Linked DNA regions of Homo sapiens: all the other regions are linked to region 2. Evidence: fine-mapped expression QTL. A gene starts in region 2. Each other region holds a variant in brackets. All regions are shown on one strand. Distances are between the middles of the regions.

Region 1 (10,925 bases), 33 kb before region 2:
GTGGATCACTTGAGGTCAAGAGTTCAAGACCAACCTGGTCAATATGATGAAACCCTGTCTCTACTAAAAACACGAAAAGTTAGCTGCGCGCCATGGCACATGCCTGTAATCCCAGCTACTTGGGAGGCTGAGGCAGGAGAATTGCTTGAATCTAGGAGGCAGAGGTTGCAGTGAGCCAAGATTGTGCCACTGCAATCCAGCCTGGGTGACAGAGTGAGACTCCATCTCAAAAAAAAAAAAAAAATAGGAAATACTGTGTGACTAGTTGCACCTGTCTTGCTGCCTACTACCTGTTAAAGTTACAATTTCATATGAAATGTCATCCATGTAGCAGATTATTAAAACAATTAATAGCAAATGTATTATTTTGGGACAATCTTAAAACAGGAATGATACTAGGACAAAGAAATCATCTTCCCTCTGAAGACTGAAACTAGGAAAGATTTCCTTTTTTGTGATGTGGATTTAACCAATTTTGTGAAAGAGTTCTGCATAAAAAGTTTTTTTGTGTGTGGTTGTTATTCACTTTTTGTTTTAGCAAGCATGAAGACAGAGAAAGAAAACTTTGTGCTTGGTTTAAAATTGGAAATGAAATACAGAAAATTCTTCTCTTCCTAAAGGCTTACAGTAATGGTCTACAAACTTCTTGGTGATTGCATTGCTCTCTCATGATGTTCTTGGCAAAGCTAGAAGGGAGGAGTTAATCATAAGGCCTGGCATGTGCTGAGCACTCACTGTGTGTCACACTTTCTTCTGAATGCTGTACTGCATATGCATCAATTCCATTCTCACAATGAATCTCAAAGTTAGGTCCTATCGTTACCATCACTGTTCATAGAATAACTGAGGCACAGAGAATGCAAGAAACTTGCTGACAGTCACACTGCTAGTGGTTGGGAGAGCCAGGCTTTGAACTCAGGCATTTAGGCTCCACAGGCCCTCTGGTTACAATTACCCTGCTGTAGTAGAGATTAATCTCCCCATTGGACAATGGGGAAAGTACCTTACCTTAGCATCAGGTAGAAACTCATATTTATTGTATACGTAATATGGGTGGTGGTGTAGTCTGAATGTTTGTATTCCTCCAAAATGTATGTGTTGAAATCCTAAGCCCTAAGGTGATGGTGTTAGGAGGTGAGGACTTTGGAAAGTGATTTGGTCTTGAAGGTGGAGCCCTCACAGATGAGATTCGTTCCCTTGTAAAAGAGTGCATTGCTCTTTGGACCATGTGAGGACACAGCATTAAGGCAAGAAAATGGGCCTCTCCAGACCCTGAATCTGCCAGTGCCTCGATCTTGGACTCCCCAGACTCCAGAAAGTGAGACATACATTTCTGCTGTTTCTAAGCTGCCAGGTTTATAGTACTTTTTGTTGTTGTTTGTTTTTTGAGATGAAGTCTCTTCTGTCTCCCAGGCTGGAGTGCAGTGCCGCCATCACAGCTCACTGCAACCTCCGCCTCCCAGGTTCAAGCGATTCTCCTGCCTCAGCCTCCCAAGTAGCTGGGATTACAGGCACATGCCACCATGCCCGGCTAATTTTTTATATTTTTGGTAGAGAGGGGATTTCACTATGTTGGCCAGGCTGGCCTCGAACTCCTGACCTTAAGTGTTCTGCCCACCTTGGCATCCCAAAGTGCTGGGATTACAGGCGTGAGCCACCACGCCTGGCCTAGTATTTTAACAGGCTGAACACACTAAGTCAGACTGACACATAGGTTATCTCATTGGAAACTGCTGCAGATCCAGTAAAGGTTTCAGAAGGACAAGGGACTTACAGATTGAACCAGGACTCTTTGGGTGTGAAAAGACAAACCCCAATTCAAATGAGCTCAGGCGGGAGAGAAGGAAATGTGTTGTAATGTAACCAGAAAGGACAGAAATGGACTCGATCCAGGGACTAGTTAACATCAAGACATTCCCACTCTACATTTCTTTCCCCACGTTTTTATCCCCAGCGTGGTGTCTGTTTGCTCTTCACACACCCCCTCCCCCCATCCCACATGACGGTGGGAAGGAGGAGATGACCCTGGAAGTCACAGGTTTATAGCGTTTTAATTGCTTTCTATTCAGTGCGCCTCTAACAGAAAAGAACGTTCCCTCCCAACAGCCCCGAGGGAAGCCTCTGAGCGACCTGGTGAAGTTCTTAAGCCTCAACGGACAATTTTCACAGCACATAGCTCTAAATGAAATTATTTGTTTGCATAGGAAATTATTTTCTGCCTGCTCCCAACAGAACGTCATCCCTGTGAGGTCCTAACTGGCCAATCTCATTCTCCATTGGCTATTCCTGAGGCCTTGCAACATTGCTGCACCTAGGATGCCCCGGACAGAGGAAGGAGTGGACAAAACCAAATCAGAGGCAGAGTAGCCCCCACACGGCTCCCTTTCTTCAGGCTATGTCATCTCTACCCTGGTTTGTTGGAGCATCAGAGGTCACAAGCTATAGGCAAAGCTGAAAAATAAAAAGAAGTATCCAGAAAAGTGAGCCTTCATTCCTGGTCTCATCCTCCCTAGCCATGGGAGACTCTGAGTAAGGCGGTCCACTTCTCTGAGCTGAAATTCCCTTCGCTCTTTAGGGAAGATCATTCCCCCTGCCCTGTTCACCTCACAGGCTTGCTAAGGAGGATCTAAGTTGTCTTGAAACATGGGAGGCAGGTTGAGCAAGCTCTTCCTAATTATCTCCCAATATACTCCTTCAGGAACTTATCCAAACTCACCTGATCAGAATTACTGTGTATGCAGAATGGACATTGAAGGCTCAGAGAGGGAGAGGGTGAGAAGGGGGCTAAGGGATGAAAAATCACCTACTGGGTACATACAATGTATATTATCTGGGTGATGGGTACACTAAAGCCCAAACTTCACCATTATACAATTCATCCATGTAACCAAAAGCCACTTATACCTCTAAAGCTGTTGAAATTAAAAAAAAAAATTACTATATATGCTCAAGTCTTCTCAATACCTGTCCTTATGCATGGTCCTGTACATTCTCTGCTTTTAATGTCTTTAAACCCTCCTGTCTACTTATCTGGAATGACCCATAACATAGCCCATTTCAAGTCTGTGTCCTTGACAAAGCACTTCCCCATTTCCCTAAACCTGAAATAATCTTACTTTCCGTTAAATTGTCATAACATTTTATCTGTGTATCTAGAAACACTGAAATCTGCAGCTACCTCATTATTTCACAAGAAGCTTAAGGAGGGCAGCTAAATTAGCTAAGCAGCCCCGTGGTTGTCCCTGTTCTTTCTATGTATACTAGAATTCCTTAGACTTCGTTACTGGAGGGCAAGCTCACTGCAGGCATTGCCCACCAATTTACTACATTCGAGCCTACATCTTCTATATTTTTGCTGGTCAGAGCTAAGGTTGAGGTTTGGGAGGCAACAGAGATTCCAAGGCTTGATTGCTGTGTAATTAACCCATCTGAGTCCTTAGGATAGAAAGGTTGTGATAACAATAGAATGGAACTTGACCAGTGTGATCTGATTCCAGAGAGGGGAAACTCCCTGTATAGGAAGTTTAAAGAGCTGCCATAGGGCTCACTTTTGGTTCTCTCAAGAATTTTTTTCTCTCTTGTTATCATTCTTATCACTCATCCTTCAAGCTTGCCATATTCTTTTTAAAAACTACTTCCGGTCAGGCGTGGTGGCTCATGCCTGTAATCCCAGCACTTTGGGATGCCGAGGCGGGTGGATCACCTGAGGTCAGGAGTTCGAGACCAGTCTGGCCAACATGGCGAAACCCTGTCTCTACTAAAAATACAAAAATTAGCTGGGCGTGGTGGCGCATGCTTGTAATCCCAGCTACTTGGGAGGCTGAGACAGGAGAATCACTTGAACACGGGAGGCGGAGGTTGCAGTGAGCCGAGATTGTGGCACTGCATTCCAGCCTGGGTGACAGAGCAAAACAACGTCTCAGAAAAAAACAAACAAACCAAAAACCACTTCCTGAAACACCTTTACCATACAAACATTGTTAAATTGGTTCACCTCTTCCCCATGCAAAATGAAGCACCTTGGCTATACTTTAACCTACAGACACAAAAGATATTTTAAAAGTCATTAACTTTCTTTTCTGTGTTTCAGAAGTTTGATTCAGTAGAAGACATCATCGAACACTACAAGAATTTTCCCATTATACTAATTGATGGGAAAGATAAAACTGGGGTCCACAGGAAACAGTGTCACCTCACTCAGCCACTCCCTCTCACCAGACACCTCTTGCCTCTGTAGCCTGGTCTTTGTGTTATCTTTGGTTTACTGGATTCAGCGCTTCCATTGTTTTCATTGATTTCAAAAGTTTATTTTCTGTGCCTTCAAGGGACAACTTTTTTAACTTTGGAGAAAAGAAAAACACTCTATAACAGAGAGTGGAAAATCACTCACGGTTTTGAAAGTTCAAACCACAGAGAAAATATTTATAACATGCAAAAAATAAAAACATTCTAGTAACTGGCCACTGGAAAATAAATAAAAATAAAAACTAGGGTTTTAAAAGTATCTTCTAAAAAACAACAACAAAAAATACTATAAACATAGCCATTATGCTCATGATACAGGCGAGCAGCAAAGGGCACCAGAAGCTGTTGCTTAAATGTTTGCAGTCAGTGCAAGACAAGTCTATGGGAAATTCCCAAATCTGTGCTCTTTACAGGACACTGCGCTGCCTTTATGTCAGTTGTTGGGCCTTACATATATACAATGTGTGGATGATTTCTTACACTAAAGATGCTGGGCTGGGTGCGGTGCCTCATGCCTGTAATCCCAGCACTTTGGGAGGCTGAGGTGGACAGATCACGAGGTCAGGAGATCAAGACCATCCTGGCTAACATGGTGAAACCCCATGTCTACTAAAAATACAAAAAATCAGCTGGGCGTGGTGGTGGGTGCCTGTAGTCCCAGCTACTCGGGAGGCTGAGGCAGGAGAATGGTGTGAACCCGGGAGGCGGAGCTTGCAGTGAGCCGAAATCGCGCCACTGCACTCCAATCCAGCCTGGGGACAGAGAGACTCCGTCTCAAAAAAAAAAAAAGGTGTTGGGTTGGTGAATATTAGCTCTCTTTTATTGTAATCCTAGAAATTCAAGTATAGGGAAGAAATGTGGTATGGAAAACCAGCAATTGTGAATGTCACCTTGAAGACAGAAACTGAAAATCCTCTGACTAGGGTGTGAAACGGTCATGGGACCAGCCTCCAGCATCATCTGCTTCAAGTAGCTTTAAGTCAAATGGAATTAACACATTCATAGTACAGAGCTCAGATTATATCCTACACTAGCCTTCAGGCAAGCATATGTCTGAGGGAAACTAAAAATTGTATTAACAATTCCAATTATGGACTTCCATTCAAAGACAGAGAAAAACTGTCCTCAAATTAGTGCTAATTCTTGCAGTAACGTTGCACAGGCCATGATATTATTCCCTGTAGAGGTTAAGAGGATTTAATTTTATTATTGTTTTACAATAAAGATGAGGAAACAGAGGCTCGAAGTAGCTATTGATCTTACTCAATATGAGAAGAGAGCCCAGATTGTAATCTGCTTTGCCTGGCTCCATGCAAGCTCATCTTCCCAGGTACATTCTCTGCGCTGTGACATTTTACAATCAAGTTGAAAAGCTAATTTAAAAAAAAAGAGAGAGAGAGAGAGA[A/G]AGATAGAAACAATTTGAAAATACAGATTTACCACCTTAAAATAAATAAACTCTTCTAGTGGGAATAAGCTTTTTTAAAAAACATACTGTCTGTCGAAAATAACAGTATATCATGATGTCAAATGCTACCAAAGCTTACAAAGGAAATTCATAGAGTATTTATGTAATTGTAGCATTGATGCAGAAAGAAAACCAAAAATAATTAAAAGGCAATAGAAGCAAATGAAAACAATAAAAACAATGTGCAGGATTATCTCTTTTGTAAGACAGCAGACAATGAGCTCTCTGGGAAAAGCTCTTAGCATCTACCCACTATCCAAATACCTGCTCAGGTGTTCTCCTTTCACAAGGTCAATGTGAAGTGATGCCTATAAGTTACATCAGGAGCATTTAATGAAGAAGCTATTTGTAAAGCTGGAACTTTTGAGACCCAGCTGAGCCTATCGTAGAGTATGCCTGCAGAGGATTACATAGAACCAAGAGACAAGAGTGTTTAAATTGGAGCTTGGATACGAAAGAACTCACTGGTCCGGTCAAAGCTAAAAGCTGTATGGTTGCTGGTCATTCTCTACTGGAATTCAACAAGCCAGGGACAGTATGGAAACAAGGACTTTACAGAAGAGCTCCAGGCTCACATTAAGAAGGAATCTGACCCTCACCCTAAAAAGCTATTGGGAGATTACTGATACCTCCAACTCACTGATTCATTGAGGCCATGCCATTCAATGCTATGTTCTCAAGAAATGTCTATGAGTCCTCTCAACCATTGCTGTTGATAAAATAGGTGAATGTCAAGTGGGGGTTAGCATTTGATAAGGTGTACGTTTGAAATAATATTTTATCGTCTCTTGTTCACAAATACAACATATAATTCCAAGAAGAAAAAAGAAGTAGAAATTCAGCATCCTTAAGATGACAGCAAGAATGAGGGGAAAAGGAAGAAAAAAAAGAAATTAAACATCTTGCAATAAAAAGCTTACAATATTTTTGTGTATTTGAACACTTCTGTAAAAAATATAAAATGGAAAATACTGACATGGGCTGCTTCTGGTGATTGGGGTTTGAGGGATTGGGTGTCGGGTTTTCTAGAACTCAGACACCAGGACAAAGTTAGAAGTGCAAACACTGATTGGAGGTTAATGTTTGAGAAAGATAAAAGGGAGAAGAAACAGAAGTATGGGTATGGGGTGGGCTTTCAGGCTCCCACCTGTGAGAGGGAAGAGGGGAGGTGTGGGGAGTGAGGAGAAAAAGCATGAGATTCAGACACAGCTCTGGGAGAGTTTTGGCCAGCTCATAGTGAGGCCCAAAGCAAAGTTTGCCCAGAGAGGAGACAGTGTTATGCTGGGCAGTAATGTCTGGGTCTTAGTGCCCCATCCTGTTAAGTCATTGTCTGGGGCTATCCTGGGAAAAAGAAAAACAACAAAAAAAAAAGACCTGCAAATGCTGTGGCCAATCCAGAAGGCGCAGCTGGACGCTGTCCACTAACTTGCTGGCCAGCAAGTTATTTCAATGGAGACTCAAGAGACCCACCTCTGGCCTGCCACAGCAACATCCTGAATTCACTGTTTTCAGTGTTGATTGTAGTAAGGACAATCACATTTACATTTTGCTTGTAATGGATGATTAAATAATAAGAGTATATAAATTCGATTGTATTTGTTTCTTACAACACTTCTGTAAAGAAGAGAGGGCAGCTATTTCTAATGCATTTTATAATTGAGGAAATTGTACCTCATTGGCCAAAATCTCACAGTGACATAGTCGCGACTGGAACCAAGGTCTCCATATGCAATTATCCTATTCATGGTCTACCTGCTTTATTAGATCTGTAATTGAATATTCAATGATTTGGATTTGGCATGCCCAAATTCCAGTGTTTTAATCCCTTTTCAACCATTACCTCACGTTTAGTTTAAAAGTATCACTTGATATCTGATTTCAATAGAGTAATAGAATTTTAGCTTTATCCAATTACAGCATTTATGCTTTCCAGATATTTTTTGGACTAAATAATTCTCATTCTGTATAAATGTGCATAGCCCTCATCATTAGTCATATATTGTGTTAGCACCTTTGTGTACTGCATGTGTATTCATTACTAAGCACTATTGTAGATGTTGAAAATAGAGCAGTGAATAAGAGAGATAGATGACAAATAAATATACAAACAAATAAGATAATCTAAGTCAGTTTCCCATTACTGGATTGGATTTCTATTTTAACACTTATTTCTGAGTACTTGTGGGGTGATGCCAACATTAAATGTTTTGAGGAAGCTCCTTTGAGATGGCTTTGAAAAGTCCTAAGTGAGAAAATTTAAAATTTTCCCAAACTTATTTATGTGGGGTGTGCATGTGTGTGCCTGTGCCTGTGTGCGTGTGTGTGTGTGTGTTTTTAAGTAACCGCATCATGGCTGTAATCAGTTAAGTCTCCTGTTCTAATTACTACGGAGGAATCAAATGAACCCCATTGTCGAATGTAGCCAATTATGTATGTGTGTACACAAATACAAATTTTTATGATAGCCTATATTGTATATTAGCATTATATTTGTATATCTTTTTTATTCTGAGCAATATTTGTTCTAGCTAAGCACATTTACATTCATAATTTACAGCCTTACTAATGTAAATAAAAGTAAATATGTAATTGAATGTTATAATTTTCTCTGTCTCTGAGTATTGAAGAAAGAAATTCAAAACATAGTTTAATTTTGTTTCATGCCCTATTACCCCTAAAGCTCTTTTGAAATTATATTTAGGGCAAATTTAGGATAAAATTACCAGAACAATTATTGACATATGAGCATTATGCTAGACTTTGGAGATAAAGACAAAAAAGACACAATCCCTGTGATTGTGAGCTCAGAGCCTGGCCGGAAAGATACACATGTAATAACCATCTTAATATGTGTAAGTTAATATCTCATTGTGGTTTTGATTTGCTTTTTCCCAATGATTAGTGAAATTGAGCACCTTTTCATATGCCTGTTGGCCATTATCAAAAAACAAAAGATAACAAATGTTGGCAAGAATGTGGACCAATGGAAACCCTGTACATTGTTGGTGGGAATGCCAAATGGTGCAGCCACTATGGAAAACAGTACTGGGTTTCCTTAAAAAATTAAAAATGGAACTATTATATTCAGCAATCCCACTTCTGTATATGTATCCAAAATAAATGAAATCAGGATCTTGAAAAGATATCTGCACACCCATATTCATTGCAGCATTATTCACAATTATTCCAAGATATGGAAACAACCTAAATGTCCATCAAAAATGAATAAATGGGCCAGGGATGGTGGCTCAGGTCTGTAATCCTAGCACTTTGGGAGGCCAAGGTGGGCAGATCACTTGAGGTCAGGAGTTCGAAACCAGCCTGGCCAACATGGTGAAACCCCGTCTCTACTAAAAATACAAAAAAAAAATCAGCTGGGCATGGTGGTGGGTGCTTGTGATCCCAGCTGCTCGGGAGGACGACACAGGAGAATCACTTGAGCTCGGGAGGTGGAGGTTGCAGTGAACTGAGATCATGCCACTGTACCCCAGCCTGGGAGACAGAGCAAGACACTGTCTCAAAAAAGAAAAAAAAAATGAATGAATCAATGAATGAACAAAATATGTTATATACATACAACGGAGTATTATTCAGCCTCAATAAAGAAGGAAATCTTGGCATATGTGACAAGGTGGATGAATCTGGAGGACATCATGCTAAGTGACATAGCCAGGCACAGAATGACAAATACTGCATGACTCCACTTATATGAGAAATCTGAAATAAACTCACAGGGACAGAGAATAGAATAGTTGTTGCCAGGAGCTGTGGGGAGAGGGAAATGGAGAGTTGTTGTTCAATGGGTATAAAGTTTCAGTTATACTAGGTGAATAAGTACTAGAGAGCTGCTGTATAGCATTGTGCCTATGGTCAACGAAAATGTATTACCTACTTAAAATTTTTTTAAGAATGTAGATTTCATGTTAATCATGTTAAGTGTTCTTACCACAAAAAGGGAGATGGGGCAGCAGGAAATGTTTGGAGGTGATAGATATGTTTATTGCCTTGAGTGTGATGATGGTGTTATGGATGTATGTGTATCTCGAAACTCATTAAATTAGATACATTAAATATGTCCAGTTTTTTAATATACCAATTATACCTCAATGAAGCTGTTTTATTTTTATTTTTATTTATTTTTTGTGAGACTGAGTCTCGCTCTGTCACCCAGGCTAGAGTACAGTGGCGCGATCTCGGCTCACTGCAAGCTCCGCATCCCGGGTTCACGCCATTCTCCTGCCTCAGGCTCCCAAGTAGCTGGGACTACAGGTGCCCACCACCGTGCCCAGCTAATTTTTTTTGTATTTTTAGTAGAGACAGGGTTTCACCATGTTGGCCAGGATGGTCTCAATCTCTTGACCTCGTGATCCACCCGCCTTGGCCTCCCAAAGTGCTGGGATTACAGGCATGAGCCACCGTGCCCTGCCATTTTTTTTTAAAGCTCATCAGCTATCATTAGTATTAGTGTATTTTACGTGTGGCCTAAGATGATTCTTCCAGTGTGGCCCAGGTAAGCCAAAAGATTGAACACTCTACTTCAGGAGTACAGGCATGTTGCCCATTATTGGGTACTCCTGTTTTAGGGGCACTATTCTAGGCCATGGGGAATGAAGCAGTGACTACCTGTTTGAAGGGTAAGTGAATACAATAGAAGCAGCATCTGTAGAGAAAGGACAGATAATTTATTAAGTGGTTCTGGTTAAACTGGCTCACCATATAGAAAAAATACAATTATGTCTCTACCTCAAATCATATAAAATATATTTTACATGAATCAAATACTTAAGAGCAAAAAGCAACTATTAAATTGAGTCTTACATCTTTGTCTAATAATTTTTAAGACTTTGAGATAGGGAAAGAGTTCTTAAGACAAAAACTTAAATCATCAAGGGAAGGATTGATAGATTCATTACACCAAAATTTAAAATGTTTACAAAAGTTAGACAAAGTCAAAAGGCAATTAAACAACCTAATATGTATGAGCAAAGGCTGTAAACAAGTAATTCATACACACTCACAAAGCTGGAATGTCTTAACTTATGCACTCCTGTAAGTTAAGAAAATTAATAACAATTAAGTACAATTAAGAAAATTAATAGGCCGGGAGCAGTGGCTCACGATTGTAATCCCGGCACTTTGGGAGGCCAAGGCGGGCGGAACATGAGTTCAGGAGATCAAGACCAGCCTGGCCAACTTGGTGAAACCCCGTCTCTAC
Region 2 (10,925 bases):
TCCCAAGCAGTTAATGACTTAACAAAGCCCACGCGCCACGGGTCCTGATGGCGCTTTCAGCCCAGAGGCGGCGGGAACACAGCGGGAGGGGCGAGGAGCTGCAGTCATCAGGAACCCTCGGATTCCACGCCAGCCTGGGGAGGGAGCAAATTGGAATGTAAAAACAAAACATTACATTCCCGATTTTCGGAAGCGCGGGGCGAGCGGGAGCGAAGACGCCCAGGTGAGCGCGGGGCTGCACCGCCCGCCGCGCGGGGTAGAGCTCTACACGCCGAGCTGGGCCAGCCGGGCTCGCAGCGACACTGCAGGCCGCGGGCGGTACTGCAGCGCAGCGCGGCCCGGCGCATCTCGAGGCTCTATCGGGCGCGCATGCTCAGCGCGCCGCTCGTGGCCCCACTAGCCTCACTGCGCGCTTCCGCGGCAGCCGCGGCGGCCGAGCTGAGTGTGCGGGCCAGGAGAGCCAAGAGAGTGGGCCTGCGCCGCAGGGCGGGAAAGGGCGGCTGGGACGTGGTCCCTGCCTTAGCCACGCTCCAGCGCCTGGCACCCTCCACGAAAGGTTGCTCCAGTTACTCCTGTTTTGCAGTTGAGAAAACGTCTCAGAGACTGGCAGTAACTTGGCCAAGGCCACACAGCTGGAAGGATGGCAAATGAGTTCGGGATTCGGGCTCTACATCCTTAACCTCCTGCACCCCAGGACTGTGAGGCGAGGTAAGCTTGAGAACCGGGGTTGTCTTATCAGAGCTTGGGGGGCCTTTATCCCTCCTTTACAGATGTGCAAACTGTGGCTCAAGGAAGTTACTAAAAACTTCTGAAATGTTTTAGAAGAAAAAAAAGCCACTTTCTGGGATCTCCTGTCCATGCATAAAGTTTTGAAGTGTCTGAGATTGACATGTCTGTGCTCTGACCTGGGTGTTAAAGACCTGGCCCTTTTCCAATGGACAGTGCTGTTTTTGTCAAGTCATATAATATTCGGGAGCGGTAGAGGCCAGAGAGAATATAAAAGTGGGTAATGAAGCATGGAAGGAAGTTCAGAGCAAGAGAAAGGATGATCATGGAAAGCTCGTGGAGGCCTTCCTCTGAGCCCCAAGCTCCCCACTGGCAGAATTTGATGAAGGGCTCTCTAAGATCAGAGTCTGTAGACGCCTAGAATGATCTAAATCCACACTGCCTTTCCTTTTCTTCCTCAAAAGCGCCCACCTCAGGGCCTTTGTACATGCTCTCCTCTCCCCTGTTCTCCATCTTCTTGTGGCAGCTTCCTACTCGTGGCTTACAGCTCATCTCCCAAGTCCCCGTCATTGCATTTGTAAGGCTCGTGGTCCAGAAATGAATGTTCCCTGAGGGCTGAGCCTTACCCTGTTCGTCATTCCTCTAGCCTCAGCACCAGCCTGTGCCTGCACTGAATGGGCATTCATACATGGTCGGTTTTTTTTTTTTTGGTTTTTTTTTTTTTTTTTTTGAGACAGAGTCTTGCCCTGTTGCCCATGCTGGAGTGCAGTGGCTCGTTCTTGGCTCACTACACCCTCCGTCTCTTGGGTTCAAGCAATTCTCGTGCCTCAGCCTCCTGAGTAGCTGGGATTACAGGCGCCCGCCACCACGCCCAGTTAATTTTTGTATTTTTAGTAGAGGCGGGGCTTCACCATGTTGGCCAGGCTGTTCTTGAACTCCTGACCTCAGGTGATCTGCCCGCCTCGGCCTCCCAAAGTGCTAGGATTACAGGCATGAGCTACTGCGCCCAGCCCAATACATGTTTTGTTGAATGCATGAGTGAATGAATGAACGTTGGCTCCCAAATCTTATACTCAAGGACTGGTTCATGTCTTCCTTCTTCTCTCCTACATTAGGTAGTCATAACTAGGAGGGTGCATTGATTTCTTAGGGTGGCTGTACCAAACAAACATGTATTGTCTCACAGTTCTGTCGGCTCAGAAGTCTGAAATCAAGGGGTCCACAGGGCCATGCTCCCTCTGAACCCTCTAGGGGAGGATCCTCCCTGCCTTTTCCATCTTCCAACAGCCGTTGGTTTGTGGCTGTGTACTCCAATCTCGGCCTCTGTCCATGGCTTCTTCTCCCTGTGTGTCTCCATGTCTTCTCATGGCATTTTCTTCTCTGCGTCTCTTCACAGAGACACAGAATGGTGTCCCTTGTAAGGACACCATTCACATTGGATAAGGGCCCACCCTAATGACCTTGTCTTACATCTGTAAAGACCGTGTTTCCAAATAAGGTCATATCCATAAGTTGGGGGTGGGGGATATTAGCGCTTCAACGTATTTTTCTGGGAAACATAATTCAACTCGTGACAGAAGTGATCCACGGAATTTAGGCAAACTAAGCTGGGGGGTGGAGAAGAAGACATGAAGGGCAGACGTGTAGGGAACGTGTGATGATTCACATTTGCAAGCATCAAAAGACTTTTAGGGACATCAGCCTTAAAGGTTTCTGCTGAAGTAGTTTCTATTTTTCCTTGACCCTTTTTCAGGCTGTAAACACTCCATTTCCAGACACTCCACAAAGCATTTCATCTCCCTGAATTTGGGCTACTGAAGAGTAAGTTAACAGTCACTTCTATCTGCCAGGGACTGTGATAAGTCCTGACTTGCTTTCTCTTGTTTAATGTTGACAACCCCCTTGGGAGGAAGGACCTATTTTTCACTGAATTTTACATGAGAAACTGAGGTTCAGACAGGCTCACAACTTCTATGTGGCCGAACTGGGATTTATAACCAGTTCTCACTTCAGAAAAACTCCCAGGAGACCCACAGGTACCTTACATCAATTCTGTGTGACTTAAGAGGGCAGAACTGTGATGCATGAGTAGAAGTTATAAGGAGAGTTGCCTCTCCTTATAAAGTTTAGGACAATTTTCTAATGTCTAGACCTCAGATTCTCCAATACTTAGAATTAATAGTTTTTCCTGATGTGGCTCTGTTTGCCACTAGAGATTTTCAGGCAGTGGCTCCTAGTTTGGATTCTCAATGCCTTTCCCAACTTGACCCTACTCTTGAGGGAGACTTTGAACTCTCTGGCATATTCTCTCTGATAGGTGCTATCTGCACATAAATGTGTTTTTCTGAGAAGAGGTTCCTTAGCTTTTCTGAGCCCTAGGAGATAGAAAACCAGGACCCTAGCAGCTCCCTGATCAGGACCGAGGTTAGGAGCACTGCAGCCTAGGGCAGGAAGAAGGATTTGCTCTCTGGGCTGCTATTTTCTCTGCCCAGCTCCTGATACTTTAGTGGTGGAGGTTTTGCCCAGCTGCTGGACTTGTGGCTGAGCCTGTCTTCTTCAACTCCGCTTCTCCGTGTGGCAGTACTGCCCAGGCCCACATCTCCTCCGTGCAGCATACTGGCCGCTGTCCGTGCACGCCGACCTTTGGCCGCCAACAGGAAGGTGATGGAAACCAGCCTTGCCCCGCCCCCGCCTCCAGAGCTTTGAAATAAACTTTAGCTGTTCATCCCGAAGAAACTGTACTTCCCAGTGACGCTGCTCCCATGCCTCAACCTGCCCCTGCTGGAGAGCTGTTTCACTTTGTGGGGAGTCACTGATTGTGCGGGACCTGGCAATATGGTCTTCTTCTTTCCTCTTAGAGGCTCTATTCTAAATATGTCTTCCTTCCGGACCGTAGATGCAGGTGTATCTAGAGGGCAGTTGGCTCGCCCAAAATAGCACCGAAGTCCAGGAGGCAGGAAAGAAACTCTGGCATTAAATGAGCTCACACCCTCTCCAGACTCCCACAGTCATTGTCCCCTCTGACCCTCGCAACGCCCAACTGCTAGAGGAGGCTTTGCGCCTCACATACGACCTTCCCCGTCTTCAGAAATGAAGACACTGAGAGAGGTCAGGGGACTTTCTCGCCAAGGTCCAGCAGCTAAGATGTAAAGGAGTAGGGAGAGTCAGGATTTGTACCCAGGACTTCAAGGCCATCTCCTTCACTGAAGCTCTCCAAGAAGACGAGTTTGGAGGCTGAGGACCTGAGCTCCTCTTCTCTCGCTTTCACTCACCCACTGCAGGACTGCAGGCTCCAGGGAGGCAGGCGCCAAGGCCGCCCTCCGCGGGACCCGGTACAAGGCAGGCGCCCCGGGATGGCAGACTGGGCCAGGACCGAAGCCGAATCCTTCTTTTGCCTGCGGCATGGCTAAATGTGGACCTCGCTCGCTACGGTGCGAACGTGTTGGGTCAAGCTCTAAGCCCAGAAGTGGGGCTCGGCTGGGTCTGAGGCTCCCCGCTCTGGACAGCTTAGAAGCCCGGCGGGGGCGGGCGCAGCCTTAGAGACCTCAGGCGCCGGCCTCGCTGGAGCCGCGCCGCCGCTTCACATTGCGCACGCGCGGGGCTGGCGCGGGCTCCGCCCCCCGGGTAGGGACCTACAGCGGGCGCGGCGCCGGCGGTCTGCGGCCGGCGGTGTAGACGCCCCTTCGCCGGGACCTGGCACCCGAATCCGGCCTGCCGGGTAAGTAGCTGAGCGGGAGGGCGAGGGCCCCCGGATCCGCGTGTACGTGACCGAAGCGCCAGCTGCGGCCGGGTCGTGGGGGCGCGCGGGGCGGGGGCCTGACGGGGCCAGGCCGGGGCGGGTCGAGCGGCCGCGGCCCCGCGTGCCCGCGCTGAGGGCTGGCGTCGTGGCAAGTGGCACCGGGTAGGCCGAACGCGGGCTCCGGCTGGTGGGCGTGGGGCACCGGCTGGGGTGGGGGCCCGGGCCGCGGCTTGGCGCGCGTTGAGCAGGTACGCGGGCCTGGCCTAGGGTCGGGGTCCGGCCCGGCGCCCCCAGCTCGCCTTTGTGCGCCGCGACCCCGCGGACTCGGCCGACGCGCCGGGGCGACCGAGGCGGGGGTGGCAGCGTCCCGCGGGGCCGTTCGTGTGGCGCCGCTGGCCCGGCCTGCGCTCCCCGCCCCCAGCGTTATGAAGGATGCCTCCTCCGAGGGCTCCTACCGTCCGCGCCGAGCAGGAAGTGTCGTCAGGAGGCCATTTTTAAAGCCTCCTGCGGGCCTCGGAGCTGAGCGTTGACGGTTTTGGTTTTCTTCGGTTGGAAGAACCCCGGCCTTCCCTCGCGGCGAGCGGGACGCGCCTGGGAGACGACGATGCGCCCGATGCACCTGGCCTCGTCCTCCGAGCGCCCAGGCTCAGGCGCGCTCGCCTCGGATGCTGCCTGCCATCGGGGGAGCGTGCCGACAATAAACTCGAAAACCAGCCTGGCATTGTCTTTCCTTGAGAGGGTCAGGGGTGGGCTCGTCCATCGAGGTCCTGCGCATCTTTTACGGGGGGCGAGGACATAGGAGGTTGAGAAGAGATGGTGAAGGTTTGAATTGTTCCAAATGCTGATGTCATTGTGGGACCTCCCCATACCGGCCTGCCCGTCTTATCTTGGTGTCTTTGGGGTTTGGGGCTCTGTAAAGCCAAGAAATTGCAGGGTTCAAAAGAATGAAAGTTTCTTAACCAGAAAGGAAAAGCCAAAAGAGCGAACGGGAGAAAACACTTAAGTCTTTATAAGTTGGGTAGTTAATGTATCCCGTTACAATACCTCTGACTTTAAAAATTGTAATAATGAACGATTTATCAACGTAACATTAAAAAAAAAAACTACAGAGCATTATGTCCTATTTAAAAGTACAAATCTACGTAGCTAAACTCTAATGTTGTGTTAGACTCTTTAAACCATCTTAAGTTTAGACTTGAAATCACCAAGAATTAAGACAAACCTGGGTCTCTAGAAGCTTGCAGTACTCTTCTACAGTAGAGCAGAGACTGAGGATGGGAATACATCTCTTTTCTCTCTCTTGAGTCACATATGCAAAGTTCAGCCCAGCATATGATGTCAGTACACAGCCAAGGGTTCAGAAAATATTGTTTTAGAAACCAATGTTATATACTGTTGTCTCTTTGAGTAGAATACAAATAGTTCTTTTTTAAAATTGTGTGATATTGATATCTTTAACTAGGATGCAATTTTTAAAAGTTACTTTCATCTTGGATCAAATTTAGCCTTCAAAAATAACACTTTTTTGCGTAGACAGTTTGCTATGCTGATAACATTCATTGCAAATGCAATTTGAAAAGAGCAGACAAAGGATGGCATTCCTTTATTTATTGGGACTCCTTTCTGATGTATTATACCCGATCTGAAGATCTTAAAAATGCAAAATGGCAATTAAAAAAATCCATTTAGATCTCTAGAGATTTATTTGCCTTTAAGTAAGGGCATCGGGGCCAGTTTTTGTGCAAAAGGAAGAACAAAGAACATTTTATTTTTGTCTCTGTGAAGCCTGCTCTTTCATTCATTCATTCACTCATTCTTTCAACCAGTACGAACCTTATTGAGTGCCTTCCTTGGCCAAACCCTTCGCTATTGATCATGATAAACAAGATCCTTACCAGGGAGGGTTTCCCCAATCATGATTGTTCTCAAACTGCCTGCTGTCTACTGCATTTTCTTTGTTATGCAAACTCAGCTAACTGCAATTTCCAGGATTCATCCTTGGAGTGAAAGCAGCTACAGATCAGCCAGTCTAAACATTGTCATCATAGGGTGAGGGTGGGGAGGCATCAAAATCAACTAGGGAGAATTTTAAACCATATGCCTGAGCCCCACCCTAGGAAATGGTAACCTGATCTGCTAGGTTGCATGTGAGTCCTGGGAATCCTTTTTAAGTTCCGTGGGTGACTTTGCCATACACCCCTGCTTGAGAACCACTTCTGGGGCTCATTCCCCTTATCTTCAACACTCTGAGAAACCAAGGCTGTGCCGGTCCAGGACTTAAACCCAAGTGTTTGGCTTCTGTTGCAGGCCTCTTTGTGCAGCGCCTTGCTGACGCCCAGGGTTCTGATGTAGAAGCCTACACCAGGGCCTGAGGTTGTGAAACTCATGGCAGTCCACGCCTGAGAAGAGAAGGCCTGAAAGAGAAGGAAGAGCCCATGGGACTTGCCACGGTTTTGACTTACATCTGCAACTCCAAGGCTACAGGCAGGAAGTAAGAACAGTGCTCAAGTGGCAGCAGATACTGACTATGGCTTCATTTCACAGCTTCACACAGCAGGGTAGCAGAAAACAAAGAATGTAAGATTGGACCCAGTTGCAGCTGTTCACCAACTCTGTGATCTTCAAAAAGCCATATAGCTTCTCCAGACCTGTTAATCAGGGAAGAAGCAGATAACTGAAGGCTGGCTTTGAGAAGTTTCGAGGTAACATAGGAACCTGCTCATGCAGGCACTCTTTCCATCTGACTTGGGCCAAGGTGCTCCGTGATTGACAAGCAGCCAGCCTCTGGGAGAGCACTCTGATCAGATCATTGATAGAACATTCACTACTCTACTTATCATACCCATTTACTTATCTCCATCTTCTGTTAGACTCCTTAAAAACAGCAGCCCACAGCAGGTGTGGGGATAAAACAGTCCTGGGCAGTGCTCATTGTACTCACACTATGCCAGGCACTGTGCCAGGAACATTCAAATTTCTAAGAATCTACAAAGTAGATACCTCATTATACATCTTACAGAGAGCATCATTGGTGTTTCCAAGGTCACAGGGCTAGGCAAGGGTGGAACCCTGAGTCTGCTTGTCTGTTTGCCCCATGACAGCCCAGGGGTGGTGGCCTCACCCCACCTCCAGGCACCCACAAGAATATAAAATCTTGTACAAGGATGTCGATATTACTATTGCCATTCCCAAGTGCACCTGCACCTGTAGTATCAGGTGGTTTGCAGCCTTGGCTGCATAGCTGCATATGAGAATCACCTGGGAAGCTTTTAAAGATCCCAGTATCCCCACCTCTTCCCCAGTTACAGTGGAGTCTTGCGGGTGGTGGGGGACATCATTATTTTTGAAGCTTCCAAGTAATTCTGGTGTGCAGTGGGGTGACCAGCTGTCCCAGGGACCTCCTTTAAAAAATAATATCCCGGGCACATGACAGGCCAATTGCCCTAATGCAACCAAGGTTAAGAACTACTGGTTTAATGGGAGATATTTTTTCTGTGCTTGATTATACTGTTTTATTAAACTCTGAATCCATTTCTTTCTGCAAATTTTTAAGGCAAAAAAGAAATGTGAAAATATACGTCTCATTTTTAGCACCTTCAGAGACCCGGAGTCATTTGATGTGCTTCATGACATAAAATTTTGTAATATGCCGTGTGATACTACCTTATTTTTACCATATATGTATTTTTAATGCTTAACAAGAGCATATTTGCTCTTTCACATTTTTTTTTCACATACAAAGTTTTAGACATCAAGCACTCTAAATTCTTTTTTACAAATATTTTTTTCTTAAAATGTTAAGAAAAAGCCTATAATATCACTTCCTTTGTTTCCTGATGTAGACTCAGTTGATGTGCACAGCAGTGTCAAGTCAATCTCCAAAATACTCCCTGTAGACAGGGTGGGGAGAAGACCCTCACTTCCTGCCGACTAATGAACTCATGTTGATACAGACCTTTGCCTCATCAGATTCATTTGTTAAGCTAACCAGTGTCTGCTTCTCTGGACATTACTGGACTCTTCTACCTGTGAAGCCATCTTAAAAAAATATATTGACTGATTTCTTAACGAAACATCTACTCTTTGCCAAGCATAAAGTTACCTCCCACTTGCATACACCCTTTTCTCATTTGTCCTCACATCAGCTGTATAAATGAGAAATATTCACATTTTATAAGTGAGAACATTCAGGCTCAGATAGGTTAACAAGTTTGAAATCATGTGCTAGTAAACCAAACACCTAGGTTTTGAACCTTGTTCTTCTTGTCCCAAGGTCATTATTCTCTACTGTGTTACACTCAGCTGCTTTCACCTGGAAAAGCAGAGGAATCAGGCTGTCTCCTGCAGCTGTCTTGGTCCATTCTGCTGCCCAAGCAGTACACTTGGTTTCAGATGGAAATCTAGGATCCCAAGCATGGGTACATTTGTCGGCAGCATTTGGAAGTATTTTTCGTCATCAGGATGGCAGTCAATTTGCAATTCAGTCATCTCAGTGCAAGGTAGTTTGGCAAAAAGATTATGACACTTAATGGATTTTTTTCCTCTTTTAAATCTGTTTACCCAGCATTTTGTAGTATAATGCAATGTAATAACATTGCATTATTTTGAGCATAGTTTAGAAGCCAAGAAGATGCTTTCAAACAGCTGACATAATTCAGTTATGGCCCAGATGTCCTGCCTTCCCCATCACACATTCATATTAATGGTCTTAGAAAGCTGTTTCTGAGGCAACAGTTTCTTCCTCAATATCATCCTACTGGGGAAATTTTGGCAGTTGATGTCTAATGTTGATTTTTTTTTCCTGATTGATTTTAATTGTTCACTGGGCACTTTGGGGTAGAATTGTTTTAAAAATTTGGTTACTGGGAAAGCTAGACAAGCCTTTGCTATGGTGAAAGAGACAGAAGGAATATAGATATAATTTGTAAGTGGTTATGCCATTGGGCTTAATGCTTTGCATACATTATCTAGTTTGCATCTCCTGATCGCCCTTTAAGTTTGCTTACGGTAAAGCATTATTCCTTGCTTGGCAATGCACAGAGAAAAATTATTTGCTGAAGGACCCTGCAAATGAGGGACAGGATCAGAGTTGGAACTGTAAACCCTGCCACTCCATTTCATGTGATCTTCATGGGTACAGCAGCTATACCCTGCCCCAGCAATGAGTATGGTAGAGCCACATTCAAAGGCGGACTTTGGGGTCAGCATTCCTGAAAAGAGCTGCTTAAGTTTGCTTCTACATCCAAAAACGATGCAGTCACAGTCAACTAACACTGAGCTTGCTGGGCATCTCCTGAACAGAAATGTATGTGGTGGTCCATGTAGCATGTATGCGATATAATTGGCCACCCACCTTTCCTTTTCACATTAACATTTATCACAGAAACACATTCATTTGCTACAGGGATATTTCACAATTTGGCTGAACTTTGAGAGAAGTGGGTGAGGAAAAGGTAGTTTCGTAACTAGTTTATATATAAACCTAAATTGTAGTGAGTACTCTTGTAAGTGGAGCATCTTTTCTATGGTAATTATAAATGGCTGTTAGCCCCTTTGCACTAAAGCTAGGTGGGTGGTTTTGCCACAGAGGTAAATTATCTTTCGGGCGGTATAACCAAACAAATAAAATATAAAGTGAGATTCAGGGCATGTTCTGAATACAGCAGTTAATTAGGCAGCTAAGAAAACTGTATTTTAGCCCCTCTGACTATGTGATTGGTATTTTTTTAAATTAAAAAATGGAAAATAATATTTTTAACAGGTTATGATATGTCAGTCATTTAATCCTCACAGTAACTCTGTGGGGTAGGTAGGTACTGTTTCTATCTCATTTTACAGGTAAGGAATCAAAACAGTGGGTATACCCAGGTTGTATATCTAGAAAGTGATAGAGCTGGGATTTTAAACTTTATAATCTGATTCCAGAATCTCTACCTTTAAACACTATGTTACCACTTACTTCTCTTCAAATTTTATTGAGCATTAGATGTTTCCAGTATTTAGAAGTCAAATGCTTCGTTTTTAATAGGAACTTACACAGTCTTTTATGTTTTTTTATAGCCCTCAATGTCACTGATGTGGATTCTCCCAAACTCGATACTTTGTTTGTTTTTATGTCCCCATAATAAGTCTTTAAGAAAACAGGGCAAGTGAGCTCAAAATCAAAAGAAAACCCACCAACAGTGAATGCATTCAGGGCTATTTCCAGGTCTTTCTTTTGAAGAAAGATAAGACTCAGTCCAGAGAGCACATCTGTGACACACCGTGCCTCTTGCCTTTGGTGCGTGGCAGTCATCTTTGGCTCATGCTGTACCTTATTCTACATTAGAAAACTCACTGTATGTTGCTAAATAATTTTTTGAAAACAGGCAGATTAATAAATGGACATCTTATTTATTGCACCATAAAATTAATGGTATTCTTTTCTGTGTTTTCGAGACCTTTCCTAAGCTATCTGAAA
Region 3 (10,925 bases), 460 kb after region 2:
GGGTTATGTTCCATTTATCTCTGTGTCTAGCTCAGGGCCCAGTACTCAGCACATGTTTGTTGAATGAGTCAGTGGATGACGTAGATCAGTATCTTGTGCACTGAGGTCTGGAAACTTCATCATCGATAGAAATAGCTGTAGCTATTGATAATATATTCTATCCTCACTCCGTGCTATGAGTAAGATAGTTGTGAATCCAGAAAGAAAGAGAAAACAGAAAGAAGATAAATACCTCGCAAGCAGAGGGTGTCTCCCCTCCTCACCTCATTTCCTTCCATCAGACCATTTGCTTATGTCTGAAATCTGGGAGTTTTCTGTGATCTTCTTTCACTTTCTGCAACACCATCTGTTCTCAAACCTGGAGCCAATCACCCAGGAAGTCCTACCTATTCTACTCTCAAAATATATCTTAAATCCATCCACTTCTGTCCATTTCCATTGCTTAGTGAAGTCCACCATGATCTTTGGACCACTGCAGTGCCCCCCAAGTGTGCCTGGCTTCCTGTCTAGCTCCTCTTTCATCCACTTGCCAGAGGGATCCTCTGAAAATGCAAGCCACACCATGTCCTCCCCCTGCCAAAAACCCTCCAATACTTTCCCACTTCATCTAGAGTAGAATCCAAGTAAAAACCAGGCTAACTTCCATGACCTATCAGGCCCACATGACCTGCCCTTTCTTGCCCCTCCAACTTCATCCAGCCCACTCCTTCCCTTTCTGGTCCTGTTCCTCCCCTATTGGCCTCCTTGCAATTCCATGGCCACCCAAGCTTTCTTCTGTCCTGCTGTCTTGGCATAATTCTCCCTCTGCCTGGAACACTTTCCTACCATTTTTCTTTTCCATGTTAAATGGCAGCATGTATTATGCATACAAAAGAGTATATAAAATACACACATATGCATTATGCTTGTGTGCCCGTACACACACACACACACTTTAAAGACTGAGTATAAATCTAACACTCATGTCACAATCCAGGTTAAGAATAAAAGGTCTGGGGAGGCTGCAGCGGGAGGATCGCATGAGCCCAGGAGTTTGAGACCAGCCTTGGGGAACATGGCGAGACCTCCTTTGTACAAGAAACAAACAAAAAAAATTTATCCAGGCATAGTGGCACATACCTGTAGTCGTCTGTCTCAGCTACTCGGGAGGCTGAAGTACCAGGACCTCCTGACCCCAGGGGATCAAATCTGCAGTGAGCTGTGATCATGCCACTGCACTCCAGCCTGAAAAAAAAAAAAAGAAGGACCTACCAAGTGTCCCTCCCCAGTTATTTCTTCTGTCATCCCCCGAGATGACCCCTGACCTGACATTTGAAATAATTCTTTCTTTGTAGTTTTACCGTCTATATATAATTCTCCAAAAAATTTTAATTTGGCATACTTTTGGGTTTTACACATGGAATCAGACTGTGTATGTTTTGTTTTTGGCTGCTTTTGGTTGGTGTTATTTTTGCCAGGTTTTCCCATGTGTGTTTGGACAGAGCTGTATTCATTCATGTTTGTGGCTGTGATGTTTCATATGATGATGATTCTGCAATTTGTTTATTCCTGCTATCGACCATGGGCACCTGGGCTGTTTCTCGTCTGGAGTTATTATGTGCAATGCTGCCATGGACATCTGAGTACATATATCCTAGGGCTCCCCAGAAACAGTTTTTCAGGGGAGTTTTCTAGAAGTAGATTTGCTGAGTTGTAGGCTACAGGCATCTTCCATTTGACTAGCTGATGCCAAAGCTGTTTTCCAAGATGGCTGTACAAGTCAAACTCCTACCAGCAGACAACACACTGCTTGTCACTCCTCAGTCTTACCAGATCTTTTAATTTTTAGTCTATGTGGGATTGTGTAAGCTCCATTCAAGTACTGGCCACTGCTTCAAGCTCTCATTTGACCCTCACAACAGCCCTGAGAGGTCAATGTCATCATTCCCATTTTGCAGATAAGAAAACCAAGGTTCAGCTGATTTAAATCATTACCAAGTTGTGCTGGGATTTGAGCCCAGGTCTGAGCGACCTGAACCTAAGCTTTTTCTGCAGTGTCATATACTGGCTCAGCTGAGGTTTGCGGGCTCACGTTGGGTAGCAACAGGGAACTCTAAGTACCTTGGGGACTGAACTCTGTTTGGAGCTTAGTGCCATGGACCTCAGTCTTTGGTGTACATCAGAATCACCTAGTCCCTGTCCCAAACACACTGAATCAGAATTGGCAGCGATGAGACTCTAGTGAATGTGAAGTTGTATTTCCTTGTGGTCTCATTTCTCTGTTGACTAATGATGTCAGGCATTCTGTCATTAGCATACCAGTCATTTGTATTTTCTCTGGAGTCTGTTCAAATTTTTGCTCATTTTTAATTGTATCATTTGCCTCCTTTTTGACATGTTAGAGTTCTTTGTATATCGTAGATAGGATTTATTTGTAGTTCTATGTGTTGCAAATATGTTATCTCAGTCTATGGGTTGTCTTTTCATTTCTGAATGACGTCTTTGGAAGAGCAGAAGATGTTAATCTTGATTATATTCAAATGAGCATTTTTTTTTCTTTTATGGCTAGTTTTTTTGTGTGTGTTGCATTTTTGCCTATTTTTTTTTTGTTAGGTATGTGCCCCCCCACTTTTCTTTTGAGACAGGGTGTCACTCTGTCACCCAGGCTGGAGTGCAATGGCGCAATCTTGGCTCACTGCAACCTCCGTCTCCTGGGTCCAAGAGATTCTCATGCCTCAGCCTCCTGAGTAGCTGGGATTACAGGTGCATGCCACCACACCTGGCAAATTTTTGTATTTTTAGTAGAGACAGGGTTTCACCATCTTGGCCAGACTGATCTCGAACTCCTGGCCTCAAGTGACCCACCCATCTCAGCCTCCCAGAGTGCTGGGATTACAGGTGTGGGCCTCTGCGCCCACCCGGTATGTGCCCTTTAACACACCTCCACAGCAATGCTGCGGTGCACTAGAATTGGAGAAGCCCAGCTATGAAGCTCATCATAAGCTTGGGGTCAGATCTGAGTCCAGCTCCCAGGTTTAGCACTTACCTAGCAAGTCACTTTGTCTCCCTGAGCCTCAGTTTCCCTATCTCCAAAATGAGGTAAAAAGAGGAAACATTTTGTTACAAAAAAAGTACCTTGGGATAGGCAAAGATGCAAGAAACACAAAAAAACTAGCCATAAAAGAAAAAAAATGCTCATTTGAATATAATAAAGATTAACATCTTCTGCTCTTCCCAAAATTTGTTAGAAGAGGCCAATGAGATAAAGCTCAAACAAATTAGCAAAGTGCTATGCATGAAAATGCTCTGTACAAGCTGTTTTGTTTTGTACACTGGCTTGCTTCAAGCAGCAGGAGAGAACAGAAGGAAATAACATGGTTTGTTGTTTATTTTCAGTACATCAAGGCCTTTTACAATGAGTCATGGGAAAGAAGGCATGGACGTCCAATAGACCCAGACACTCTGACTTTGCTCTGGTCTGTGACTGTGTCCATATTCGCCATCGGTGGACTTGTGGGGACGTTAATTGTGAAGATGATTGGAAAGGTTCTTGGGAGGTCAGTAGGAGGCTGTCTCTATCTGGGGGTGCCCTCCATGTTCATAATATATCTGTGTCATTGTCAGGGTCCTGACAGGCAACAGAACTCCACTCAGGCAGTTCAACTGGAGAGATTCAAATGCCCAAAGGGGAAAGGGGAAGAAATCAGAGACCAAGGTCCAAAGATAACTGAAGCCATGGACTGCAGGCTGATGAGCAGCAGCAGAAGCGTATAGGGACTGGGCTGTGTCAGAGCCACAGCACCCACATGGGGGAGGAGCAGGGAAGAAATGCCCTGACCCCTCCCTCCTCCCACCCTCCATCCTGCTGCAGAGGTGCACACTGGTCACACCCATGTGAAAGCCAGTAAACCAGGAAGTCATGTTGCCATCCAGGAGATGCTCCCGGGGCATAGAGCAGAGCAGGGAGGGGAGGGGAATTGATCTGGGTGTTGGGGCAAATGGAAAACACAGTGCAGTGCCTTGGAAATTGTTCCACGTAAGTACATACAGATCTGCTTTTCCAGAAAATTGACTGCTTAGACAGTCTTCCACTATATGGCTGTCTCATCATTTATTTAGCCACACTCCCTGACTGAGAGACATTTAGGTCATTTCAGATCATTTACATTACAAATAAGGAAGCAGTGAGAATCAAAAACTTCATATCAGCCTTTCCTACCCAGGCCCTCTCCAATCAGCTCACTTGACCTTGTGAGCCTCATTCCTCACTTATTTTAGACAGGAATCCTTCTCTCAGAGCAGATTGACTTATCAATGAATCCCCACAAACAATGCTTTCTCTGTATTCTTGTTCATAACAACAGCATCCTGGGAGCCAGTGAGCAGTGTGTGGAAAGAGTAGAGCTTCTCCAAGTGATGGAGGAGTCGTCACATCAATCTGATGGGGCCAGAACATTCGTGTCTTAACTTGAATCATGTGTCTTCCACTTACTAGCTGTGTGCCCTTGGCCAAATCATTTAATTTATTTGAGCCTCAATTTTCTTATCTGTAAAATAGGGATGATAGTTTCTACCTGCAGGGAATGTTACAAGAGTTAGACCAAATGAATGGAAGGAGAATGGCCATGAGTTGTAGCTGAATAAATAAAAATTCTTGTCATTGACCACATTATTTGGCATTTCCCTCATCATCACCTTGACATCACTACCTAGTAAGTACTCGACTAACCTCCTTATTGCATTGACGTGAGTTGAAGAGGAGATTTATCAGACTCCAGAAAATCTCCTCAGACCATGGGATTACAGAAACCCGATTAAGAAGGAGCCCATTTCACAATCTGAAATGACCGAATCCTTTACATTCTTCCTCACAGCCCAACAAGGAGAAAACTAGAGTTGACGATGTTTCAAAGCAAGATTTCTAAAAGATGGGACAGGAAGCCACCCTGAAAACATCCAAGTGGTGCTTATGAGGGTCTGTGATACCTGTGAGGTAGGGGAGGTGCTGACATTTTCCTTGTCCCCAAGCCCACTTTCAGAGCAGTAATTAATGGGAATTCAGGGCCTGGAAATACAACTACTGCATGATGTAGTGAGAGATGCCATTGTCTGAGGTCCTTCAAGGTTCCAGCCACTCACACATTCTCTTGTTTAATTTTCTATCTGCTGTGGGGTCTGTAGATGGGGAATGGGAGGTTAGAGAGGTGAGGGCATCTGCACAAGCTTAGCTAGCTTGCACTGTGGCTGAGCTTAGGCTGGAATCATGATCTTTCCACTATGCCAAGCAGATCTTAGTTAGGGGCCAATTCCCAATGCTGGGAATGTACTGTAAAACCATGACTGTTTGACAACAGGCTGGCACTCAGATTGGCATCACTGGCCAGGGTCCCTGAGGCATGGTCACTAAGCCTCCTGCCCAAGCCAGACCCTGCCCATGGTCCTCTTGCTTGTCCTAGTGGGATGGAGTCACTCCCCATGCCCCAGGATCTGGCCTGTGATGTCTCCTTGCTTTATACCTGACCGTGGCATTTATACCCCAAGGCTGCTCCTCAAGGAGGCTCTGAACCCATGCAGATGGAATAGGAAAAGGAACACTAGAATCGGGTCAGAATGCCGTGGCTCAGCAAGTCCTGACTCTGCTGTGTATCAGGTGTGTTACAAGGGACTTTGACACCTCACTTCTCAGCCAGCATTATTCTTACCTATAAAATGAGGGCAATGAAAGTAGCTTTACTACCCTCACTGGCATGGCAACAAAAAAAAAAAAAAAAAA[G/AAG]GAAAAGGAAAGCAAAAGAGAAAACAACTTTGAAAATACCTTCAATCTCTAAGTAATGGAGGAGTCATAAAGAAGTGAGGATGCAGAAAAAGATCAGATCAAAGGATGTGTTGGTTGTTATGCCCCAAGCAGCTGCCAGTTTCCTTTTCATCATTATGAGAGTAAAAGTTGATTTGGGCTGAAGTTTCAGCTTGAAGAGCAACTCTGCTGGGGAGAAAAGGAGCAAAAATTGAAAAAGAAAGCTACCATCTATTGACCTCCTGCCTTGTCCTTGACATCCCATATATCATTTACTTCTTAAAACTCCATGTTTGCATCATTACCTGCACTTTTCAAATGATGAGTCCAAGACCCAGTGGTCAATTGGACCAAGGTTTCAAAATGGAGTTGAACTGAAGTTCAGATCTGCATGTGTTTGACCACAGGCCAACACTCTTCCTGTGACATGATGCTATTTGAAACGCCTTCCTGATGCTCTGTTATTCCTCTCCCATGGGGATTCTCAGGGAGGGAGAGGAAACTGCAATGGCAGCCTGGGAGGCCCAGTGGAAGGTGCTCAAAGGTATAGCTGGGGGAGACATTCCAGGGAAGTGGGGAAGAGTTCCGATGGGGCTGGTCACTGGCTGCTCCAGCAGTGGGGCTGTTCCTAGCTAGGGAATGTTGAGCTCGTTTGTGATTTCGGTGACAAAGGAGGGCAGGGAAGCAAAGGGGGCCAGGAAGAGTCTCTGGAGATGGGCCATACCACATGACCTGGGCCTCACACAGATGCAGGTTCCTCACCTCTTGGAGTCTCTGGCTGAGGGAATTCTCAGCGATCAAGAATTCTGGTTGAAGCTCAGTGACCCATTTAGCATCCTCTGTCCTCTGCTTGCATGACCATAGTGACAGGACCCTCCTTCCCTCATGAGACAGGACAGTGACTATGTTTGGTGTACAAACACTAGCTACGGGCCCAGCTTCAAGTCTGGGCTCCGATACACACAGCTATGTGTTTCTTAAACTCTTTCATCTTTACTTAGTTCACGATGACATGAAGATAAAGAATGGCCATGTCAGAGGGTTGTTGTGAAGATTAAATGAAATGGTGGATGTGAAGTGTTCATCCCTACAATTGACCCAGACTCTTCGCCCAGCCTTTGTTCACTAGTGTCATCATCATCAACATCATCATCATCTTCACCATCACCAACCTCATTGGCTTTATTTGAGACGGGTCATTCCATCACTTGACAGAGTCAATTGTGCATCTGTTCTTTCAATTGCACTGAAATTATTCTTCTTACACATATCATTGGATCTGGTTCTTCCGTCTGGAGCAAAGCAGAAAAAACATATAAGAAACTATAGGAAAACACACATGGGCTTTGAAATCTGATCCTGGGCCAGACTCTTGGACAAGCCACGTAACCATATTCATCTATCCAAACAAACATTTTTGAGCACCTACAAGGAGTAAGGTACTGTTTTTGGCACTGGGGCTTCAGTGAACAAGAAAGACACAACATCTGGGGCTTAAGGTGATGCTTGGGCAAAGGAGGCAGCCCCTGAGTAATTCATTATGTAAGTCTTTATGATTCTGAGCAGTGCTGTGCATGGATGGTAGAGATACAAGAGGCAGCTGCTATGCCCTTTAATTTTTAAATCTGTAAAGTGCAGATAAACAAACCCACCTGAGGGAGCAGCTATGAGGGTGGAACGAGATCAAATTTACAGTGTCTCATGTCACTAAGGAGGCTTTTTGAATGCCTGTGACAGGAACCCAAAGCAAACTGGCTGAAGCCCAAAAGGGAATTACTTGGCTCACAATAACTAAAATATAACTTGGTTGAATCCAGTGGCTCAGATGATAGCTTTTAAAAAATCCAAATCTGTCTCCACCTCTCAGCTCACCTTGCTTTGTGTTGGCTCCATTGTCAGGCAATCTCTCCCATGGAGGTATAAGATGGGCCCAGCTTGGTGGAAATTCTCCTTCCGATAGTTGTGATTAAAGTCCCAGGCATGAATCTCTTTGACTTGAGCGAGGTTGCATGCGTTCAAGGGTTCTCAACCAGAGGGCAATGTTGCCTCATCAGGGGACATTTGACAATGCCAGGAGATGTTTCTGGTTTTCATAACTCAAGGGTGCTACTAGCATCTAGGAGAAGCCAGGGATGCCTCTAAATATCCTACAATGCACGGGACAACCCCCACAGCAAAGAATTTTCCAGTTCCAAATGTGAATAGTGCCAAGGTTAGAAAATCCTGGCAAATAACATTCTAACACTCTGGATTAAGTGCTTTTAAAAAAGCACATCTTAAATGCCTTGAGAATGATGAGTGATTTTATGTTGACTGGCCAGGCCTGTACCACGCATCCACTCCTGAAGCCATGGTTAGGTGGAGACAGGCAGGAAGGTTTCTTGGTGGAAATTTGAGGAACTCCTCCCAGAAGAAGGATGGAGGTTCGGTGAGCACAAACAACAGGCATCCCATACATCACTCCAGGGAAATAGCAGGTTGTCAAAAGGACTATTTTTGCTTTCATCATTTTCTACTTCAACCCTTTAAAAGGCATCTGTATTTTATAGTAGTAGAAAATAACTGTGTCTCTCTAGGTGCCTGCTGGAGGAGCCTTCAGTGTATGTGGCAAGCATGCATTGGTTAGCCCAGGCTGCCATATCAGAATACCACAGATGGAGTGGCTTCAGCAAACAGACATTCATTTTCTCACAGTTCTGGAGGCTGGAAGGCCAAGATCAAAGTGTCGGCAGGTCTTTTCCTCCCGAGGCTTCTCTCCATGGCTTGCAGATGGCTGCTTTCTCGCTGTGTGCTCCCTGTGTGTGTGCATCCCTGGTGTCCCTTCCTCTTCTTACAAGGACACCAATCATCCCACATTAGGGCCGCTTCCTTGTGACCTCATTTTAGTTTAATTATCTCTTTAAAGGCCCTGTCCCCAAATGCAGTCACATTAGGGGTTAGGGCTTTAACAGGTGAGCCTTAAAAAAATCCAAATCTCTCTCTTTCTCCACCTCTCAGCTCAGCTTGTTTTTTGTTGGCTTCATTGTCAGGCAGTTTCTTCTGTGGAGGTGCAAGATGGCCCCAGCTTGATGGAAATTCTCCTTCCAATCATTGTAGTTAAAGTCCCAGGCATGAATCTCCTTGGCCCGAGCGAGGTTACATGCGTTCAAGGGTTCTCAACCAGGGGGCAGGAACATAGTTTAGTCCATGACTGAGCAACACACCGTGCTGCTGACAACCTCTTCTTTCAGGCTGGAATTGTCTCAGAAAGTCAATTGCCCAGAAGCAGAGCCTGAGGCAGGGATTGGGATGCACACATGGCTTGTGGAGGAAGGGCTCTTCAGGAGTAATCTTTAAGGTGGGGAAAGCAGAAAGCAGCAGGGGAAGGAGCCAGGCAAGGCTGCACTCCCTGGTCAAGTTTAGCCTCACTTGGGGGAGCTCTGGGGCATAATCACACCACAGAGTCACCCAACTTGAAGTAAGGGGGCTGCATCCACCCCTACCACTCATCTGTCACTCGCTGCAGGCAGCACTGGGAAAGGGGGATCCACCTTCAGAGCCAATGTCAATCTTCTGGAGAAGAGTCAACCCTGAGCCTTTAGAAGCCAGCATTCATTGAGCTGGGGGAATCCCTGAGGGGATAGGGAGATAACCAGCCAGCCAGGAAACCTGATCCTCAACCCTGCTTCTCCCAGCCTTAGAAGACTTGACTAGTCTTCTAAGCATAGTGAGAATGGCAAGAACTCTGGAAGAAGGAAACTTGGGTTCATGATGGGACATAAGGAGAAAGCCTGGGCATGGTAGATAAGACCAGAAGACTTCGGGACGGCAGGGTTCCAAAGTGTAAAACAAAGAGTCAACACATCCAAAACAAGAGGCTTCAATGGTACAAGCTGTCCCTGCATCACTGGTTTGTTTTATTATGGACACAACCCCTTTGGTATTACAGACGCATGAGCCGGGAAAGCAGGGTTAGAAATCATAAGAAATCTTCAACCCCATCCCCCACTGCCTAGGACATATCTACCAGAACTAAATATTGGCCTTCTCTGAGCTCACACAGGACTTTCAGTTCCCTGTGTTACGTCACTTGGCATTTTGGGTTGTACTCATTTCATTATGTTCCCGTCTCTTCCCTGATAAGGGAGCCCTTCAACGTAAGAACCATATGTATTTATGGCCCCTAGCACCCAACACAGCAGCTTGTACACAGCAGGCAAGCAGTAGACATTTGTTGGATAAATGGAAGGATGGGTGGAAAATGCTCGATGCTTGAATTTTTCTATCACATCTCCCCAGTGTGGCCATCCTTGCTTGCATCTAAGCATCCTTGTATGCTTGCACACTTTCCGTTCCCTCATCCGATTATTTACTCACCACATATCTGTTGAGTACTTTCTATGTGCCAAGCACTCAGGCATGAGCAAAGCTGCCAAAGTCCCTGTCCTCCTGAAGCATGCAGCCAAGCGGGGAGCACAGCCAAGTAACAAGCATGCAGACTGTGCCATTCGGCCTGTGACAAGGACCAATGTAGAAAACAGAGCAGCTCAAGGAGGTCAGAAGATGCTGGGGAGGGTGAAGAGCTCACCACTTTGTTCAGAGGATTCTCTAAAATGGTGACTTGTGCAGGGAGCACTGAAGGAAGCAAGGGAGTGAGCACGCTCATCCCTGGGAAATAGCTCTCCAAGCAGAGGAGGCAGCAGGTGCAAAAGCCCAGGGGCAAGAAGAGGCTCCACTTCTTTGAAGATGAGAGTGGAGGTCAGTGTAGAGATAATCATAGGAAGCTAGATGGGATATTTGGAGTCAGATCCTGAGGACTTTGCAGGCGAGGGTTGAGACTCTTCCTCTGAGCAAAATGGGAAGTCAGTGGAACGTTTTAAGAACTGATCTGACTTGCATTTGGAAAGGTGTGCTGTTATCAGGGGGTCTCAGAGCCTGGTTGGGAGAACCTTGCAATAGCGCAGGTGAGAGAGGACATGGTTTGCACCAGGGTTGGAAAACAAGGGAAGGCAGGTGTCTGGGCACAGATGCAGGTGCAGAAATACAAGCAGAGGGCATGTGGGAAGGGTCTCTTGGGATTGCCTCTGTGTTCTCAGTGAAAAAGAAAGCATGGTCATCAGCTGAGAATGATAAAAAGGGGATTTGAAGAGAGAGAGAAAACATATGAAATAGTCCT

Direction of the effects. Positions count from the first base shown, and alleles are read on the strand shown. Sizes are in standard deviations (SD) of each study's normalised expression. Not every link is listed here.
With allele A in place of G in region 1, the expression in Th1/17 cells of the gene that starts at base 4,335 in region 2 is lower (large effect, 0.87 SD a copy in Schmiedel 2018).

The links.
Region 1: its variant is fine-mapped to the expression of ZNF518B in Th1/17 cells (Schmiedel 2018, PIP 0.90).
Region 3: its variant is fine-mapped to the expression of ZNF518B in whole blood (INTERVAL, PIP 0.98).

Annotation. Positions count from the first base shown.
Region 1 is chr4:10,483,779-10,494,703 of GRCh38, reverse strand. It overlaps CLNK (cytokine dependent hematopoietic cell linker), which reads left to right. Exons shown (of 19, transcript NM_052964.4): 19 at 4,091-8,309. The coding sequence ends at 4,237. LOC105374482 (a long non-coding RNA gene) reads right to left here and starts at 5,591. Exons shown (of 3, transcript XR_925387.4): 1 at 5,509-5,591. The variant A/G (reference allele first, on the strand shown) is at 5,651.
Region 2 is chr4:10,450,836-10,461,760 of GRCh38, reverse strand. ZNF518B (zinc finger protein 518B) reads left to right here and starts at 4,335. Exons shown (of 3, transcript NM_053042.3): 1 at 4,335-4,444; 2 at 6,773-6,956. RefSeq lists silencers at 240-409, 4,220-4,859 and enhancers at 4,990-5,149, 4,412-5,227, 5,210-5,269.
Region 3 is chr4:9,989,392-10,000,316 of GRCh38, reverse strand. It overlaps SLC2A9 (solute carrier family 2 member 9), which reads left to right. Exons shown (of 12, transcript NM_020041.3): 3 at 3,376-3,536. It overlaps SLC2A9-AS1 (SLC2A9 antisense RNA 1), which reads right to left. Exons shown (of 4, transcript NR_183862.1): 2 at 6,943-7,062; 3 at 1,120-1,224. Among named protein-coding and RNA genes, the nearest start is that of SLC2A9-AS1, 6.7 kb to the right of the region's middle. The variant G/AAG (reference allele first, on the strand shown) is at 5,753.